5 linked regions of the Homo sapiens genome follow. The protein of the gene in region 2 interacts with the protein of the main gene of each other region in a pairwise test. Each region holds a gene or a part of one and is shown on either strand. Other genes may lie near its edges.

Region 1 (3,521 bases), on a different chromosome or scaffold from region 2:
GGAGGCATCCTACGATTAATGTTTTATTATTCATATTTTGACAAAGATAGCATATTATATTCCAGGACATGGTAGTTACCATGTGGGGAAACCTATCAAAGCATTTTTAATGACTGCTTAGAATAACTGTAGAAAGTACTTTCTCAATGATTTTTGTATGCAAGAAAAAAAATACCTGAAAGTAACCAAAAGTTTCAGACTGGAAAATATGCCAGGAAGATTTTCTTCTCTCATTCTCAGGTGAGGTTATAATCCAGTTTTAGCAAATGTTTGACAATTTAAAATACTTTTGAAAACTGGAGATTTAAAAAATGTAAACAATTGTAGGCACAGCAAAATCGTAGTTTTCCCTTCTGATATTATACATTTGGCATCTCTCTACAGTTATATTAACATAAATAAGGCAGCTAAAACGTTCAAAAATAGTTTTACAACATTCAATTTTAAAATTTCATTCAAGCTGTAATCTTTTGTTTCCTGCTGCCACCTAACATTTGAAGTTTTGATTCAGGGTAATGTCCAAGGTTTCTTAAACATACCATAATAAGTATTACTATTCCTTAACATTTATCCCAGGGGAAGAGATAAGGGAAAGGGGTAGCTGGGCATGATATTTACAGTGTACAAATAATGATCCATTGCCAGAAATGAAAACTCACCTTTCCACCAGCATTTGCTCAGCCTCAATAGTGCAATGCAACTTGGTGCTGATAAAAATAAACCATTAAAACCAAACCCTATCATGCAAGGAGTGAGTTTGAAGATATGTACACAAACTCAAAAATCTGTAAACTTTAGGACATTTTTATTTTTAACTGTATTTTCTACTTTTCATCCAAACATTTGTCATCATGGACTCAGAAGAATCCAAGATTTTGATCTAGATTTAAAATAACTCAAACATTACCCAGGGATTTTTGTTTAAAAATGCTTTTATGGGGATTTTTATTTTGGTATATTCTGGCACTTCCTGGAATGGCAGGTCTAGAAGAATAAAGTCCAAAGCACAGGGTTATGATCTCACACTGTTTAATGCTAAGCAAACTGTTGAATATTCTAGTTATCAATGGAAGAATTCCCAGAATAATGGTGTAGAAATAAAAACAACCTAGAAAATGTTTGGTAGGAATATACAAATTGTCAGTTTTGAACTTGCAAATTCTCAAGAGGTTTTCTTCTTTGCTGGGACTCCTGAAAAGTGATCAATTTTACACCCAATTTATTTAAGATCCATGAAAGGACAGCTTACTTTAGGGTTCCTGATATATAGTGACCAAGGAGATATAGTGGCATTTATGAGAAATATTAGCAGGTAAATTAAATCAAATTTAGACTTTTGGATTTTAGATTTATGTTACAACTATGTAGTCTCAGGGGAGGTCAGTTTTTGGTTGGTTGGTTATGTTTTGCTTGATTTGGTTAGATTTAAATTTTGAAGAATGAACTAAAAGGTAACTAACAAGTTAGAGACTGTTGAAATGATCAGAACATGGTACCAGTGGTGATTCTGGAATATAAAGAGCATAGTAGCATCATTCAGAATTGTTATCAGCATGCTGTGGATTTTCTCATGTTTTCCTGCAGTAGGTTAAAATTAAAAGTTTTATCAATAACTATTTTTTTTCTTAAAAATAATGTAGCACATCTTACATCTTAAAGCAATCAGCACAAATGCAAGTGATGCCTGTTCAAGCAGACTTTCAAAGACAGCACACACTGTTAACACAAAGAGCTCTTCCACGTTTCAAGAATACAGTGACGGGAACTGGTACACATAGTAGTAGGGAAAGCATTTTTTTAAAAGCTTCGTGGAATGTGAGACTTTAGCCCCTTCCTTTCCTGGCAGTGGATAAAACCAAAATGGTTCTGGCTGGAATTTCACATCTTTCTAATAATCTACTGGACAGGAGGGACCAGAGACACCAATTACCAATGAGTCACAAGAACAGACAAAAATTGTTAGTAGGTTTTGACAACCAGGAACTAAGGTGTTTTTAAAAAACATGTACTTGATGCAAAGTATATTAGGAGTGCACCCTAGAAAACAATGTCAAAGTGTTAGAAAAATGGAGCCCCTGTCCAGGTGACCTTGTGAGATTTCACCCATAACTTAATATACCCTGTTTAATAAAAATAATAGTTCTAGGTCTTCTTGAAGGATTGTTTAGAAGTCTCCAAGAAAAATAATGAGATCTATCTAAAATAGAGCTGTTCAATTTTATGTGGAACTTAGTGAAGGCTGTCTTCATTTGCATTGTGTGTTATGACAGTGGTCTGGCTGGAACTGGCAGGGGGAAGAGCCTCATTATTTGAAGGAACTTCACTGGTCATCCATTCCTACCACCACTGGATGCAGGAATCCATGCTACAGTATCTTTGACTGGCACCCAGGAATGATGGTCACCTGCCAGACCCCAGACCCAGACTATGGTGTGGGCAGGCTCAGTAGATTTTACTGGATGATTATTAATTTAGAGCAGTAAGAACTGGCAGATCTAGTGAAACTTACTCTGAGGGGAGGGCTCAGTTTCTCCAGTTTCTCTTTGTAGGAAAATAAAAATAAAATGAGCCAATTTCTAGAGACAAAATCACCTATAAAAAGATCAGAACTGAAGATTTTTTTTGTTGAGATGCTATAAAAATGGATGAAAAGCAACCGTTCCTCCCCTACCCCCAAAAAGAATTAAGGCAATTCAGAAAGTTTGGATGAGCCACAAGGACACCATTCTGACGTATTCTGCATGTTCTAGGCCTCCTTATGTCAGGGCTGGGGTCTGTCTTGCTGGAGGAAAATTTATTTTTGAAGATAAAAGCTTCAGTGAATTCTTTAAATATCTGTCTTTTAAAGAGCACAGATTTCTGGGGGGCCCATTTAAATTTGGATTTGCCTTGTACTCAGTGTAAAATATTAGTACAAAAATATAAAAGGCATGGCTTGATGTTTAACGTGTGTTTTATTGTTGTTGGCACCAGAAAAGCTCATGTTCTATGTTATGTCACTGTACATACTGTAAACAAGACTGCATTAATATTGTTTTCTTATGATTTGTTTCAATGACTCTAGATTTTAAAAAATACATTCACAAACTACCTTATGTTTAAACACAATGATTCCCTTTTATTTCTTAACTGTACCCAAAATCCCACAATAAAAAAATCATTTAAAGCTGTGTGTTTCAAACTTATCACTTAGAAATAAAAACAAAACAAAACATAAAAACAAAGATCAGTTTGCAACATAATTTAAAGAAGCTTCTGGTTTAAAATACCACAGCAGCAATATAAAGAGCTGGTGGCAATCACATTCGGGAGTGAAATCGAAATCAATATATTTTGTCCACATCAGCATCCAATTACAGTAGTTGTTAAATTCAATCCAAAAAGTTATTGCTGAATTTGTGGCATGGAATTTGAGAAGATAGTATTGTTCAGCAGCACAACCACAGCAGTAAAAATGAGAACAGGAGGATTTCATTGCTTTTGAGAGCTAAAGGGACCATGAGGAGGATATCTTGCTGATT
Region 2 (2,854 bases):
ATGTTGTACCTAATGGATCTCTACTGCAGGGCCAAGACTTAGTAGCTGGGTGTGGTTAGTGGACTATTGGGCAAGGTTAGTCATTGTAGGGGGCAACTGTCTGGCAGTCCAGGAGAATCTTTCTCTGTCACTGAGTATAATGTAATATGCCAGTAAGTGATAGCAGGTATTATAGTGAATTCATAGAATATTCTACTTATGTAATTCTATTTATTCAAAGGTAGCTACCACAATACCCAGAATGTAATGAAGCTCAGAAGGCCTAGTGAAATTTTTACTATGTCTTATGTTCTTGGATTTTCTCCTTAGAAAACTCCTGGAGGGTGAAGAGACTAGATTTAGCACATTTGCAGGAAGCATCACTGGGCCACTGTATACACACCGACCCCCAATCACAATATCCAGTAAGATTCAGAAACCCAAGGTGGAAGCTCCCAAGCTTAAGGTCCAACACAAATTTGTCGAGGAGATCATAGAGGAAACCAAAGTGGAGGATGAGAAGTCAGAAATGGAAGAGGCCCTGACAGCCATTACAGAGGAATTGGCCGTTTCCATGAAGGAAGAGAAGAAAGAAGCAGCAGAAGAAAAGGAAGAGGAACCCGAAGCTGAAGAAGAAGAAGTAGCTGCCAAAAAGTCTCCAGTGAAAGCAACTGCACCTGAAGTTAAAGAAGAGGAAGGGGAAAAGGAGGAAGAAGAAGGCCAGGAAGAAGAGGAGGAAGAAGATGAGGGAGCTAAGTCAGACCAAGCCGAAGAGGGAGGATCCGAGAAGGAAGGCTCTAGTGAAAAAGAGGAAGGTGAGCAGGAAGAAGGAGAAACAGAAGCTGAAGCTGAAGGAGAGGAAGCCGAAGCTAAAGAGGAAAAGAAAGTGGAGGAAAAGAGTGAGGAAGTGGCTACCAAGGAGGAGCTGGTGGCAGATGCCAAGGTGGAAAAGCCAGAAAAAGCCAAGTCTCCTGTGCCAAAATCACCAGTGGAAGAGAAAGGCAAGTCTCCTGTGCCCAAGTCACCAGTGGAAGAGAAAGGCAAGTCTCCTGTGCCCAAGTCACCAGTGGAAGAGAAAGGCAAGTCTCCTGTGCCGAAATCACCAGTGGAAGAGAAAGGCAAGTCTCCTGTGTCAAAATCACCAGTGGAAGAGAAAGCCAAATCTCCTGTGCCAAAATCACCAGTGGAAGAGGCAAAGTCAAAAGCAGAAGTGGGGAAAGGTGAACAGAAAGAGGAAGAAGAAAAGGAAGTCAAGGAAGCTCCCAAGGAAGAGAAGGTAGAGAAAAAGGAAGAGAAACCAAAGGATGTGCCAGAGAAGAAGAAAGCTGAGTCCCCTGTAAAGGAGGAAGCTGTGGCAGAGGTGGTCACCATCACCAAATCGGTAAAGGTGCACTTGGAGAAAGAGACCAAAGAAGAGGGGAAGCCACTGCAGCAGGAGAAAGAGAAGGAGAAAGCGGGAGGAGAGGGAGGAAGTGAGGAGGAAGGGAGTGATAAAGGTGCCAAGGGATCCAGGAAGGAAGACATAGCTGTCAATGGGGAGGTAGAAGGAAAAGAGGAGGTAGAGCAGGAGACCAAGGAAAAAGGCAGTGGGAGGGAAGAGGAGAAAGGCGTTGTCACCAATGGCCTAGACTTGAGCCCAGCAGATGAAAAGAAGGGGGGTGATAAAAGTGAGGAGAAAGTGGTGGTGACCAAAACGGTAGAAAAAATCACCAGTGAGGGGGGAGATGGTGCTACCAAATACATCACTAAATCTGTAACCGTCACTCAAAAGGTTGAAGAGCATGAAGAGACCTTTGAGGAGAAACTAGTGTCTACTAAAAAGGTAGAAAAAGTCACTTCACACGCCATAGTAAAGGAAGTCACCCAGAGTGACTAAGATTTGAGTCCATTGCAAAAGGTTAAGCCATATGACAATTTCAAAATGCATGTGATTGGCAGCTTCAAAACAGAACGGGTTCTCCCATGGGGGCTCCAGACATTGTATTTTACTTTGTGCAATATGAGGGGACTGCATGCAAGCTCAGGGTGCTCCCTCCTCAGTCTTTGGGGGATTCAAATGCATGATATTGTATGTACCTGGGAAATTTGCCGATTTCCTAAGCTGTTGGAAGGGGGTCACTTAAGGGGGGATGTCTTGAGATGTATTATGCAAAGTACCAACTGAGCCAAAAACAATAAACGAAACACAGAACTCAGCCTTAAGAAAGCTATATATGAATAATTATGTTTACCTCACTGGTGCATTTAAAATGGACTTTTGTTCATGGGAGAACCTCGTTGACATGCACAGTTTGCAATCTTATGTTGATCGATGTTAAACGTCACAGCAGTACTTGCTCAATAAAGGTCATATTGGAAACATAGTCAATTGCTGAGTCTTATGTCATTTCTCTTTTTCTAATTTTTATTTATTTATTTTTATTTAGAGATGGGGTCTTGCTATGTGGCCTCAAGCAGTCCTCCCACCTCAGCCACCCAAAGTGCTGGGATTACAGGCATGAGCCACCACGCCCAGCCTGTTATGCCATTTCAAAGTGAAATCTCCACTACCTGAAGCTTTCTTGCCCTGAAATAGATTATTGGGGGGAATCATAAGTAAACTGCACATCTTATTGCTATTTCCCTGACAGCAATTACTTGGAAAACGTAATTGCTGAAGATATTTTCAGGTGTCAACATCTTCACCGAGCCCGGTCTTCATCCCAAAATTTTAAAATCATATTTTTGAAATAAAAATAAAAGCATCAGATACAAATAGGAATCTGGTGGGATAGAAATCTTCAGTGTTTGTTTCTATCCCAAAACAGAACTCAGAACCTCTAGGTAAGAGGACCAATAAAGGAGGGGTTCATAACTTGTGCCTTGGAGTTGGGAC
Region 3 (3,521 bases), on a different chromosome or scaffold from region 2:
AATAAGTGACTGATTACATATATGACGATGTAGCAAAAAAGGCTGCAAATACAACACATTAAGTGAAAAACACAGGCTACAAAACTGTACGTACCTGAGGCTACAAACTGGCAAGGCAACGAAGACTGAATCCAGCCCTCAGGTATGCTTTGAACCCCAGTGTGTTAACAATAAAAAGTGTGGCCCACATAAAAATCAGAAGATTTCATATTAAACCCACATTCTCCTAAATAACTATAAGGTGTAGTAACACCAGGACGCATCCTCCCAGAACCACAAAGGTCTGGGTTGACTGGCCCTGGACCGTCCTGCCACCTTCAGTGCTCGTGGTCCCTAACAGGCCTTCAACTCTCCCGGGCTAAGTAGCTTCACACCAGGCACCTGCTGGGTAATTTGAGCATGTTGACCTTCACAGGGTATTAACAGTCATTATCACTGGATGGTAAGATCTTGGTAGGCTTTTAGTCTTCTTTCCTTATATATGTTTCCAAAAGTTTTCTTCAATAAACATGTATTCCTTTTGTAGTAGGAAAAAACATGTTATTTTTTAAATTACCAAATCACAACTGTAATATTAATCACTTCATCTACCAAGATCAAAACAACTAAAGATAACAGATAATGACTGTGGTTTAAAACTAATTGAACTAAGAATTAAAGTAAGGTTACGATTACTGCAGGATTTCCCTCCCTTTGATACTAATTAAAACTCCAGATTGGACAGACAACAGCAGCATTTTACAAAACAGATCTTCCTCAAAGAGAACAGCTTCTATAGACAATGCAAAAGCCTGCTATTTTAAGGATTCATTCCCATACATTTAAGATTTCTTTCACTAAAAAAAGGAAACAAAATCTCTCCTATAGAAACCTATATTCATAACCTCAATTAATTTGTTTATAAAGCTAAATAATTCTTGATCTTTGTCTTACACTGCTATTTCATTTGATCAATAGTAATAATTTTATGGGGTTCTCTTTTCCTCAGAGAAACTCCGGAAAGTTTACACAAATTACCATTCATCTCAAACCATTCCTGAGACCTCACAAAGTACACCACATTATCCTCATCACAAAGATAAAGCAGAAGGCTAGGTAGAAACGTCAACATCCATAGACAGCTGGAAGCCGAGTCAATGGAATGTTCCTCTCTATCCATCCTCCAATCCACTCCCACATGATACTCAGAAGGAGATTTTTAAACAAAAGCACATCATGGGACTCCCCTGCTTAAAACTTACATTAACTTCCTACTTCCCAGACATTCAGAGTCAAGTCCCAAGTGGGCCTCTCTCCTTCACTCCCCACCTGTCTCTCTTGCCCCCAGCACTTGCTCTGTACCAGCTCAGAGCCCTCGGGCCTCCAGGCTTGAAGGACCTCAAACACTCCTTGATTTAATAAACCAACAAATAACCCTTGCGTGTCTGCCAGGCAGCAGGCGCTGCTCTAGGGCCTGGGGCTAGCCCCCTGGACAACAGCGATACACTCCCTGCCCTCATGGAGCTAACATCCTGGTAACCCCGCTACCAAGTTTCTTCCTCCTGTAATCATTTAAAGAATATTAAAACAACAATTGTAATAACTGTATCTGAAGGGGTCTAAAAATAAGCAGTGCTACCTATAATACAGATCTATTCTCATTTAATGACTTTAATATTAGCTCTTTATATTAAGTGCAGGAAAGAGGAAAAATAAAGGCAAAGGGAACTACTATTCATTGAAATCTGCTATATACCAAGAATGGCACTCATTTTCTTGTCAATTTTTCAAGGTTTCTCTCATTACTAGCTATATAGCTTTCATTCATCAGTGGCCAAAATGCAATTCTCCAATTCTGCAAGACTGGGGCAGCTGAGTTTCAGATAACTTCAGAAATTGAAAGATAACTTGGTTTTAAAATCTACTATCTTAAGTTCAGAGCGGAAATGAATTGATTTTTGTGAAACACTGGATCCACAATGAACACTCCTATTATAGATAACACACTGGAATGATATATGTGTTTACACAACATTTTGTCTGTGTTAGAACAATAAAACCGGTCAGGAAATTTGCCTTGCAGAGAAGTAATTAACCCTGTACACACACACAGGCAAACAGACACACACACACAAAACGAATGGCTCCAATTCGTTGGAGCTCCAATTCCAATCTTGTTGCAGTGCTTTTATGGTAAGAGTCAGCGTCCTTCTTAACTAGGTTGGTTAAAGCCTGACACTAAAAGCCAGCTGACCTCGTCCACGTCCATGAACTGTATCCATGTCTTGCAAATGCATGCCACCAGACACCAGAACGATTTGCAGACATAATGCAAGGAGGAACACATCAAATGCTCACCAGTGCAACAGAGGAGCAAGAGCATTGTCCTCCTGTATTAAAAAGAGGATGTTTAATTTTAACCACCAAGGGTAAAATTCTGACCACTTGCTGTGTTGCTATGACCTTGTTATTTTCTTTCTTTCTTTTTTTTTTTTTTTTCTGAGACAGAGTCTCGCTCTGTCGCCAAGGCTGGAGTGTAATGGTGCGATGTCAGCTCACTGAAATCTCCACCTCCTGGGTTCAAGCAGGGAATTGAAGCAATTCTCCTGCTTCAGCCTCCCAAGTAGCTGGGATTACACTTGTGCGCCACCACGCCCGCCTAATTTTTGTATTTTTTAGTAGAGATGGGGTTTCACCATGTTGGCCAGGCTGGTCTCAAACTCCTGACCTCATGATCCGCACACCTCGGCCTCTCAAAGTGCTGGGATTACAGGTGTGAGCCACCACGCCCGGCCAGACATTGTTATTTTCACATTCGAATTCACTTGAATTCAAAATTCTGCCACAGCCCTCAGCTCAACTCCTGGCTCCACCACTCAATGAAGGGCCAAACGCACTACCACATGACTCCAGCAGACCCCATACCACACAAAAACAATGACAGGTTTTGGTGACCAACTGAAAACTGAGCTAGGCAGCCAAACTCAGTCCAGAGAGCTGAAGCCAAAACAATTTCACCAATGTTCTCTCTGGGCAGTAAGCTAATAAAGCAAGCTACCTATCATTAATTCTACTAGAAAAACACCGAAAGAGCAGTGATGCATTAAAATAGATTAACTTGCTTAAAATTCACTTTCTTAGAGAGCTACGAACTTTAGGAACAAAACTGGAGTGACATTCTACCATCCCATGTATTAATAAAAATGTTTTGGTTTACTTTTCAGTGATCTCCCAGTGGATGATATCTCTCTACACTGAGGCCTTCACATTCAGGAAGCAAACTTCCTTAGGCCACTTTCTATCTCCAAAGTGGCCAACATTCACATTCAGGAAGTAAACTTCCTTAGGCCACTTTCTATCTCCAAACTCGCCAACATGGAACTACCTGGACACACACACCCAGCTGTCTCCCTCATCACACTTCTGTACAGTCTTGCGTTTCTAAGACAAGTCCACATCACAAGTGAACTGCCTTTTCAAATTTCACTAGTCTTCTCTAGCACTCTAATCCTGTTTTTCATGCAGGGGTACTTTAGGAAAAC
Region 4 (3,521 bases), on a different chromosome or scaffold from region 2:
AAAAAACAGTCTGAGAGTATGCAAACAGTACACGTCAACACGGATTACATTCTGAAACCATGGATGCACACCTCACATTCCTGGAGTCATCTAACACTAGCATCAGCAGGTGGTCTTGACATGGTCCTGGACCCATTCTGTGTCACTGAATCTAAGCAGACAAATGGGCCTGCCTGGAAAATAAATAGAAGGAAGAAAGGATGGGAAAGAAGGAGGGAGGGAGGGAAGGAAAGACATTTCTGAATATGTTCCCAAGATGGTAATAACTGGCACCAGTCTATGTTGGTGGCCTTAATGGAAGCCTGTAGAGAATCTTCAGCCTGGGAGACTGAGCAGCTGTGGATATTTGATCATGTTTTCTGGTTAATGCCAAATCTCTGACACAAAGACCTGTTTATCTTTCCATTTTATGGAAGTGAGCCTGGAATGGAGTGTTGCAGCCAGGGGAGGATTACATCCTCTTTCATAAAGCAAACCCTGTGAGGGTTGTGGGATAAAGAATGCAGTTCCGACTATTTATGAGTAAATTCTCTCTTAGGATGAGCCACATGGGAGATAAAGTGAGGGAAAGGAAAGTAAAAACTTAGATTTTAGAGGAACATCACTTTCCTCTGGTTACAGAGGATTCAGGCAATGTTTATTAAGATGGTCTATCACAAATTTGCATACCAGGCATAGTGGAGATAGGAAAAGTCATGGAGGGTAAGATGCACGATCTTGCCCCTTGTCACGCAAGCTGGGGCTACATTTCAGACTCCAGAGCACGGGTCTGGCAAATGTTTCCTGTAATGGGCCAGGTAATAAATATTTTAGGCTTCATGGGCTATACCATCTCTGCTGCAACTATTCAGCTCTACCATTGTGCCATGAAAGCAGCCATAGACAATAGCAAATAGTGCATGTGGCCTTGTTTCAATAAAACTTTATTTAAAAAACAGCAGGAGGCTGGATTTGGCCCATAGGCCACAGTCAGTTGAACTCTGGCCATGGGCAGGCAAGGGGCAGAGCTTTGCGACGGGCTTCGAATACTTGGGCTGGCCTCTGGTTGCGGTGGAGACCAGCCTGCATTTTGTCCTCTCCAGCTTGAGAGCAGGAGCTGCACCTTCTTTGTGCTTCCTGGAGATTCCTGAGGAGTTCAGGGTGTTAGTATCGACTCTGGTTTATTGAATTGGGCTCTGGGTTCAGGCCTGGTGTTTCCAAACAGAAGTGTCAATGGGAAGGAGGACCAGGCCACTGGCAGAAGACGAGAGAAGCAGACATGGAAATAAAGGCAGACAACCTTTTCTTTTTTATTTCGCTTAGACAAAATGCAAAGAGTGTCTCATTAAATTAAAAAAGAAACAAGAGAGAAAACCAAATTGATTCCCCCCACCCCTTCACTGACGGCACTCATCCTAATTAACAACAAAAGAAGACCAAATTGAGAACCCGGTTTCTAATGGGAAAGAAAGGTGTGCAAACGTGACTGAAGTTTTCCCCTGCCCGCAAATCGGTGTTCCTTTTAAATTCACAAATAGGCTGATTTCCCACCCACCCTGTTTTCTTTCTTGCCTCTTGTGTGATAGAACTTCCAGTCAGAAGGTTTAATTAATCCCCCCCATGCACTTTTGTAGAAAATCAGTAAAAATGCAATAGCCTGTGAAGATCATAAAACTGGACTTCTTTCCCAAAAAATCAGATGCCCAGGCGGATGGAGCTCACACTCAGACAGAAAAAAAGCAGGAGAGTCTTTGCACTGTCTGTGGTTTCAGTATTTTCTCTTTTTTTTTTTTAATATATTTTGGCAATTTTCTTTAATTATAAATATTGGAATTCCGTAAAAAAAAGGTAGCTTTGATTGAATTGTTTGAATTGTATTTACAACCGCTGTCCAGTCATGCTGTCTGTTATACCAGGGTGTAAGATTTTGCGTAAGGATTGTTTCCTTTCAAATGGCCCCGGGAGTCGAGCAGTGATTCTTGGGAGCTGCTCATTTTAGCTGCCTGTCCCAGCTCTGCTCCCTCCCGCTGAGGTAATGTGGCCACGGCCCCCGGCTGCCACGACTGTCCTTCTCTCGTGGAGGAGGCGGAGGAGGCGGCTTCCATCGGGATGGGCTCCAGGACCGTGGGGCGCTTCAGGGTCCGGCTTTTCTGAGGTTCCAAGCATGCTTGTCCTAAGCTCAGGTCCCTGCTGGTGCCTGGACCACCTCGGTTTAACAAAAAGTCCATTCTAAGGTATGGAGGCAAATGTATGAGGTCACCTAGAAGGAAAGACAGGGTAGTTAGTTGGTGTCTTCATTTGGTAAACATGGGCAGAATGTCCTGTGTGCACACGGGAAGCCATGCGGGCTTTAGAGATGAGAATGCCGCTGCACACAGGTGCCTTTCTCAAGATCCTCCTTCAGCGCTCACCACAAAGACAGGTGGAATCGTCCTCCTACCTCCTCCCTGGGCGCGGGAGGAGCTCATTTTCCTACAGTACTTACTTACTTGTATTAACTTACTTGTACAGAAATGGAGGAATGGAGGTAACAGAATCCTTCAACACACCATCGTTGAAAGAAAAACATACATCAAAGGCATCAGTGTCCACTGGGTACGAACGGTGATAGACCAAACCCCGCATGTGATTGGAAGTACAGGGAGAGCACAGGGTTTGAGGAGAGAGCCAGGGACGCCAAGCGAAGATGGACAGCTGGCTCTCGTCCTGGCAATTCTATGAAACCTTGTGACCTTGGCCAGCCACTTAGTTATGGGTCTTCATGATGGCTTTGGGTGAAAGCGCCACAGCTTATGGCCTTCTTACCAGGCCCTGCCTACCTGCTAACTTCTGCGTGGCTCTTCTGTTTCAGCCATGCTGTGTATAGAGATGACAGCAGCTTAGACCAGAATTCTAGTGTTTCTACTTCCTGCTTATGGTCACTCTGGCTTCTGTGGTGCCACGCAAACATAACCTCAGGTCTCCTTCAAGAGCATCTGCTGGCTGGGCACGGTGTGCCTCATGCCTGTAATCCTAGAACTTCGGGAGGCCGAGGCGGAAGGATCACCTGAGGTCAGGAGTTCAAGACCAGCCAGGCCAACATGGCAAAACCCCCTCTCTACTAAAAATACAAAAACTAGCCAAGCATGATGGTGGGCGCCTGTAGTCCCAGTACTGGGGACACTGAGGCAGGAGAATCGCTTGAACCCGGGAGGAGGAGGTTGCAGTGAGCTGAGATTATGCCACTGCACTCCAGCCTGGGTGACAGAGCAAGACTCAAACAAAACAAAACAAAACAAAACAAAACAAACAAAAAACCCAAACCAAAACAAAAAAACCAAGAGCATCTGCTGCAGGAAGGGAGGCATGTGTTCTCTGGGATGCTGCAAGCCAATGACAAGCGTGACAGGGCTTTTCTCATGGCCGTCCCCGCCCGATGCAGGATCTCCCTAACAGGCATCCTTTGCTCAGGGATACCCCATCAGCCTCACTGCAGCCTTCTCAGAAGTGCACCGCAGCCTGACGTGCCTCCAACCAATCCCTCCTTCGCCTTCTCCTCTCAC
Region 5 (3,521 bases), on a different chromosome or scaffold from region 2:
ATACCATGTGCATGTGTTATTCGAAAAAATGAATAAAGTACATTCTCTAAAATAAATTACAAATGTAGATATTCTTTGAACTACTCCTAGAAATCTATCTTACAGACATACCTGCAAAGGAGCAAAATGCTATATAAACGAAGTTATTTGTTGTAGCATTGTTTTTAATACCACAAGACTGGAAACATTCAACAGAGGACTGATGATATATTCAGACACCCGGCCAGGCACAGTGGCTTACGCCTGTAATCCCAAAACTTTGAGGGGCCGTGGCAGGCAAATCGCTTGAGCCCAGGAGTTCAAGACAAATCTAGGCAACATGGCGAAACCCCACCTCTACAAAAAATTTTAAAAATTAGCTGGATATGGTAGGCATGCGCCTGCAGTCCCAACTACTCAGGTAGCTGAGGTGGGAGATTAACTTGACCCCTGGCAGTCAAGGTTGCAGTGAGCTGTGATCACACCACTGCACTCCAGCCTGGGTGACAGAGTGAGACACTGTCTCAAAAAAAAATTTACAGACACCCATACAAAAGAATATTATACAACCCACTACTCCAAAAAAGAAGAAAGGCATTCATTACATACTGACACAAAATAAGATGTACTATTAAGTGACATATGTGACCACTTGTACTAAAAGGTAATATACACACAAAATTGTTCATAGATGCATAAAATCTCTGGAACACCACACAAAAACCTAGTAAAGCTACTTGCCTTTGAAAAGGCAACTGTATGGCAAAGAACAGACCAGTAAAGAGACTCTTCACTGGGTATCCCTGAATTTTGGATTGCAGTCATGGATTATGTATACAAAAATTCACTATTCCACATGCAGCTGTAGATGTTTTCATGTACCCTGCCTTGCCTTGCTGTGATATTAAAGTCCATCTAAAGCCTACTGTTTTTCCAGTTCCTCCATAGAGAGGTCTGAGGCTTCTTTCTCCAAGAAGCCCCAGATGTTTCAATGATACCAGAACACTTTTCATTTTTTAATTTTTTTAAGCACACAGTTCCCACAGTTCTGTCTCCTTTCATTGAATGGCATTATAACCTCAGCCCCAACTACTGAATCTTATCTCTAGTAAATCCCCCAAGGCCACACTTCCCTTAAAGTTGACTGATTTTTCTAAGTTTCTAGTACCTGGGCACTTTCTCTCTCAAGATCAACTGTATACATAAGAGAAAACTTTTATATTTTATCCAACATTTTCATCTGTTTACAGTAAGAAGAATGGGCCTAACTTGTGTCTGTGTCATTTTAAGAAATTTAGATAAAGACAGTATAAACAATAACAGCAAACACTGAAGAAAGTATGATCACTGAGAAAAGACTGCTAAACTTGACAGTTCATCCGGAAGGCCAGTAGGAAGGGAAATGTGAAAAAGAATGGTTAAAAAATATGTTTGCAAAGTTGAAGTCAAGAACAGATAGTGATTAAATGTAGAAAGCAAAAGTAGATTGCACTTTTAAAAGGTATGGAGGGAAGAGAAATTTCAAATCTTCAAACTGCAGGAAAATACAAAATATTCCCCAAATACCTATGTGAATTTTTATTTAGAAAGAAAACCAAAGTTAATTATTTCAACAAAAATACTTTAAATATGATGGTGCTGCCTCATCTAGAACATCTAAGGTCCCACTAGAAATAATATAAAATCACTGTGCAGTCAATCCTCCTTATCTGTGGGTTCCAAATACATGGATTAAACCAACCATGGATAAAAAATATTCAGGAAAAAACTGTGACTGTACTGAACATGTACAGACTTTTTTCTCATCATTTCTAAAACAATATAGAATAACAACTATTTACATTGTATTAGATATTAAGTAATCTAGAGAGGATTTAAAGAATAACAATAAAATGTGCATAAAACAAATTCTACACCATTTTATACAAGGGACTTCAGCGTTCTCATATTCTGGTGCTTGCAGGAGAGTCCCGGAACCAATCCTCTGTGGAGACCGAGATTTTTAGCAATCTATGTTCAAACATACTACAAGGCAGAGAAAAAAACAGCAGCATCAATGACCTGGAATTGTATAACTGTTTTAGTCAAATAAATAATTCATTAGTAACCAGGATAATAGAAAACCTCAAAAAAATTAAAATACATAAAACCCAATTTTTTAAAAACAGATTTTTCAATTCTCACTACAACTATGTTCTCTCCAAAGCGTAAGCTAGTAAGGAAAGACACTGCCAACTGGAAACCTAGGTCGGCCCCCATGGAGAATGATGGGTCATGTCTTTTAAACAAAAGCAAACAGAAAACATTCATGTGTTCAACTTTATGGACTGTCAAACCTAATGCAAGCTTGAATTTAATTCAAGAAAATTATTATTTTAGCAAAAGTCCACATTAAATAGGGACTGCTGTGTAAAGAGACTACTTATTTTTTTTTTTTTAACTAAGAGTTATATTCCTATCACCTATAATGAGTTTTGTGGAATCCACAACTCTATAATCAACTTGTAAACACGTAACTTACATATTGGTTTATCATTCCCAGATTATTAAAAAAAAAAAAAAAGCACCTATGACAACACTACACAGGCCCAGACTCAAATCAGCACAAATATAAAGTACAAGTACTCTAATTGCTCTTCAAATTCCCAAAGTCTATCCTGACCCTCTTCTGAAGCAGCAACTAATACCACGTCAATTCACGTGAGTGGGGTCCTCAGGCCATAAAAGCTCAATTAAAGCAAAGTCTAGAGTAGTGCCACCCAACACAACTTTATACAATGATGTAAATGTCCTTGGGTATCTGTGCTGTCTAATACAGTAGCCATCAGCTGCATATGGCTATCTAAATTTAGATTAAGTAAAATTTAACATTCAGTTTCTCAGTCACAGCAGCCACATTTCAAGTGCTAAATAGCCACATGTGGCTGGCAGCTACCTGTTAAGATAGAGCAGGTCTACAGCAAAAATTTCTCCAAGACCTACTGTTCTTCAGCTGTGCTTCAAAGGCTTCCTGGTGGTGAGGATGAGAGGAAAACTGATCAGGCAGGACTTCAACAACTGCCTATTCTTCCTTCCACAAAACAGCTTTACTCCTTTTATCTGTTTTACATTTCGAAATTCTGCATATTTCTCTCTAAAGGCTTTCTAGTTGCTGCTGTGTGTGCAGGTGTGCACATGTTTTAAGTCTGACTACTACTGGTTTCGAGCAGAAATGGCCAATGCACAACCTCAGGCCAAAGCTGGACCCTCCTGATAACTAAAACATTTTTTAAAAAAAAGTTTAATTGATCAGCTAACATGAACTACAACCTAACTACCTGTCTATTAAGAATTTTAGGCCGGGCGCAGTGGCTCACGCATGTAATCCCAACACTTTGGGAGGCCAAGGTGGGCGAATCACCTGAGGTCAGGAGTTCGAGACCAGCCTGACCAACATGGTGAAACCCCGTTTCTATTAAAAATACAAAATTAGCCGGACATGGTGGCGCATGCCTGTAATCCTAGCTACTCAGGAGGCTGAGGCAGGAGAACTGCTTGAACCT

Evidence for each region.
Region 1: the proteins of NEFM (region 2) and TNIK interact in a two-hybrid assay, tested with the Homo sapiens proteins (2 studies listed by BioGRID and IntAct).
Region 3: the proteins of NEFM (region 2) and ITSN1 interact in a two-hybrid assay, tested with the Homo sapiens proteins (one large-scale study listed by BioGRID and IntAct).
Region 4: the proteins of NEFM (region 2) and DSCAM interact in a two-hybrid assay, tested with the Homo sapiens proteins (one large-scale study listed by BioGRID and IntAct).
Region 5: the proteins of NEFM (region 2) and SMAD2 interact in binary tests that used the Homo sapiens proteins (3 or more experiments, as listed by UniProt).

The regions. Positions count from the first base shown.
Region 1 is NC_000003.12:171,058,404-171,061,924, forward strand, and holds the end of TNIK (TRAF2 and NCK-interacting protein kinase), read right to left. Parts: 3' UTR 11-3,521; downstream 1-10. UniProt on the Homo sapiens protein: Serine/threonine kinase that acts as an essential activator of the Wnt signaling pathway. Recruited to promoters of Wnt target genes and required to activate their expression. May act by phosphorylating TCF4/TCF7L2.
Region 2 is NC_000008.11:24,916,752-24,919,605, forward strand, and holds the end of NEFM (neurofilament medium polypeptide), read left to right. Parts: intron 1-309; coding exon 310-1,855; 3' UTR 1,856-2,342; downstream 2,343-2,854. UniProt on the Homo sapiens protein: Neurofilaments usually contain three intermediate filament proteins: NEFL, NEFM, and NEFH which are involved in the maintenance of neuronal caliber.
Region 3 is NC_000021.9:33,648,988-33,652,508, reverse strand, and holds part of ITSN1 (intersectin-1), read right to left. Parts: intron 1-3,521. UniProt on the Homo sapiens protein: Adapter protein that provides a link between the endocytic membrane traffic and the actin assembly machinery. Acts as a guanine nucleotide exchange factor (GEF) for CDC42, and thereby stimulates actin nucleation mediated by WASL and the ARP2/3 complex.
Region 4 is NC_000021.9:40,011,148-40,014,668, forward strand, and holds part of DSCAM (cell adhesion molecule DSCAM isoform CHD2-42 precursor), read right to left. Parts: intron 2,240-3,521; coding exon 1,887-2,239; 3' UTR 1-1,886. UniProt on the Homo sapiens protein: Cell adhesion molecule that plays a role in neuronal self-avoidance. Promotes repulsion between specific neuronal processes of either the same cell or the same subtype of cells.
Region 5 is NC_000018.10:47,920,652-47,924,172, forward strand, and holds part of SMAD2 (mothers against decapentaplegic homolog 2), read right to left. Parts: intron 1-3,521. UniProt on the Homo sapiens protein: Receptor-regulated SMAD (R-SMAD) that is an intracellular signal transducer and transcriptional modulator activated by TGF-beta (transforming growth factor) and activin type 1 receptor kinases.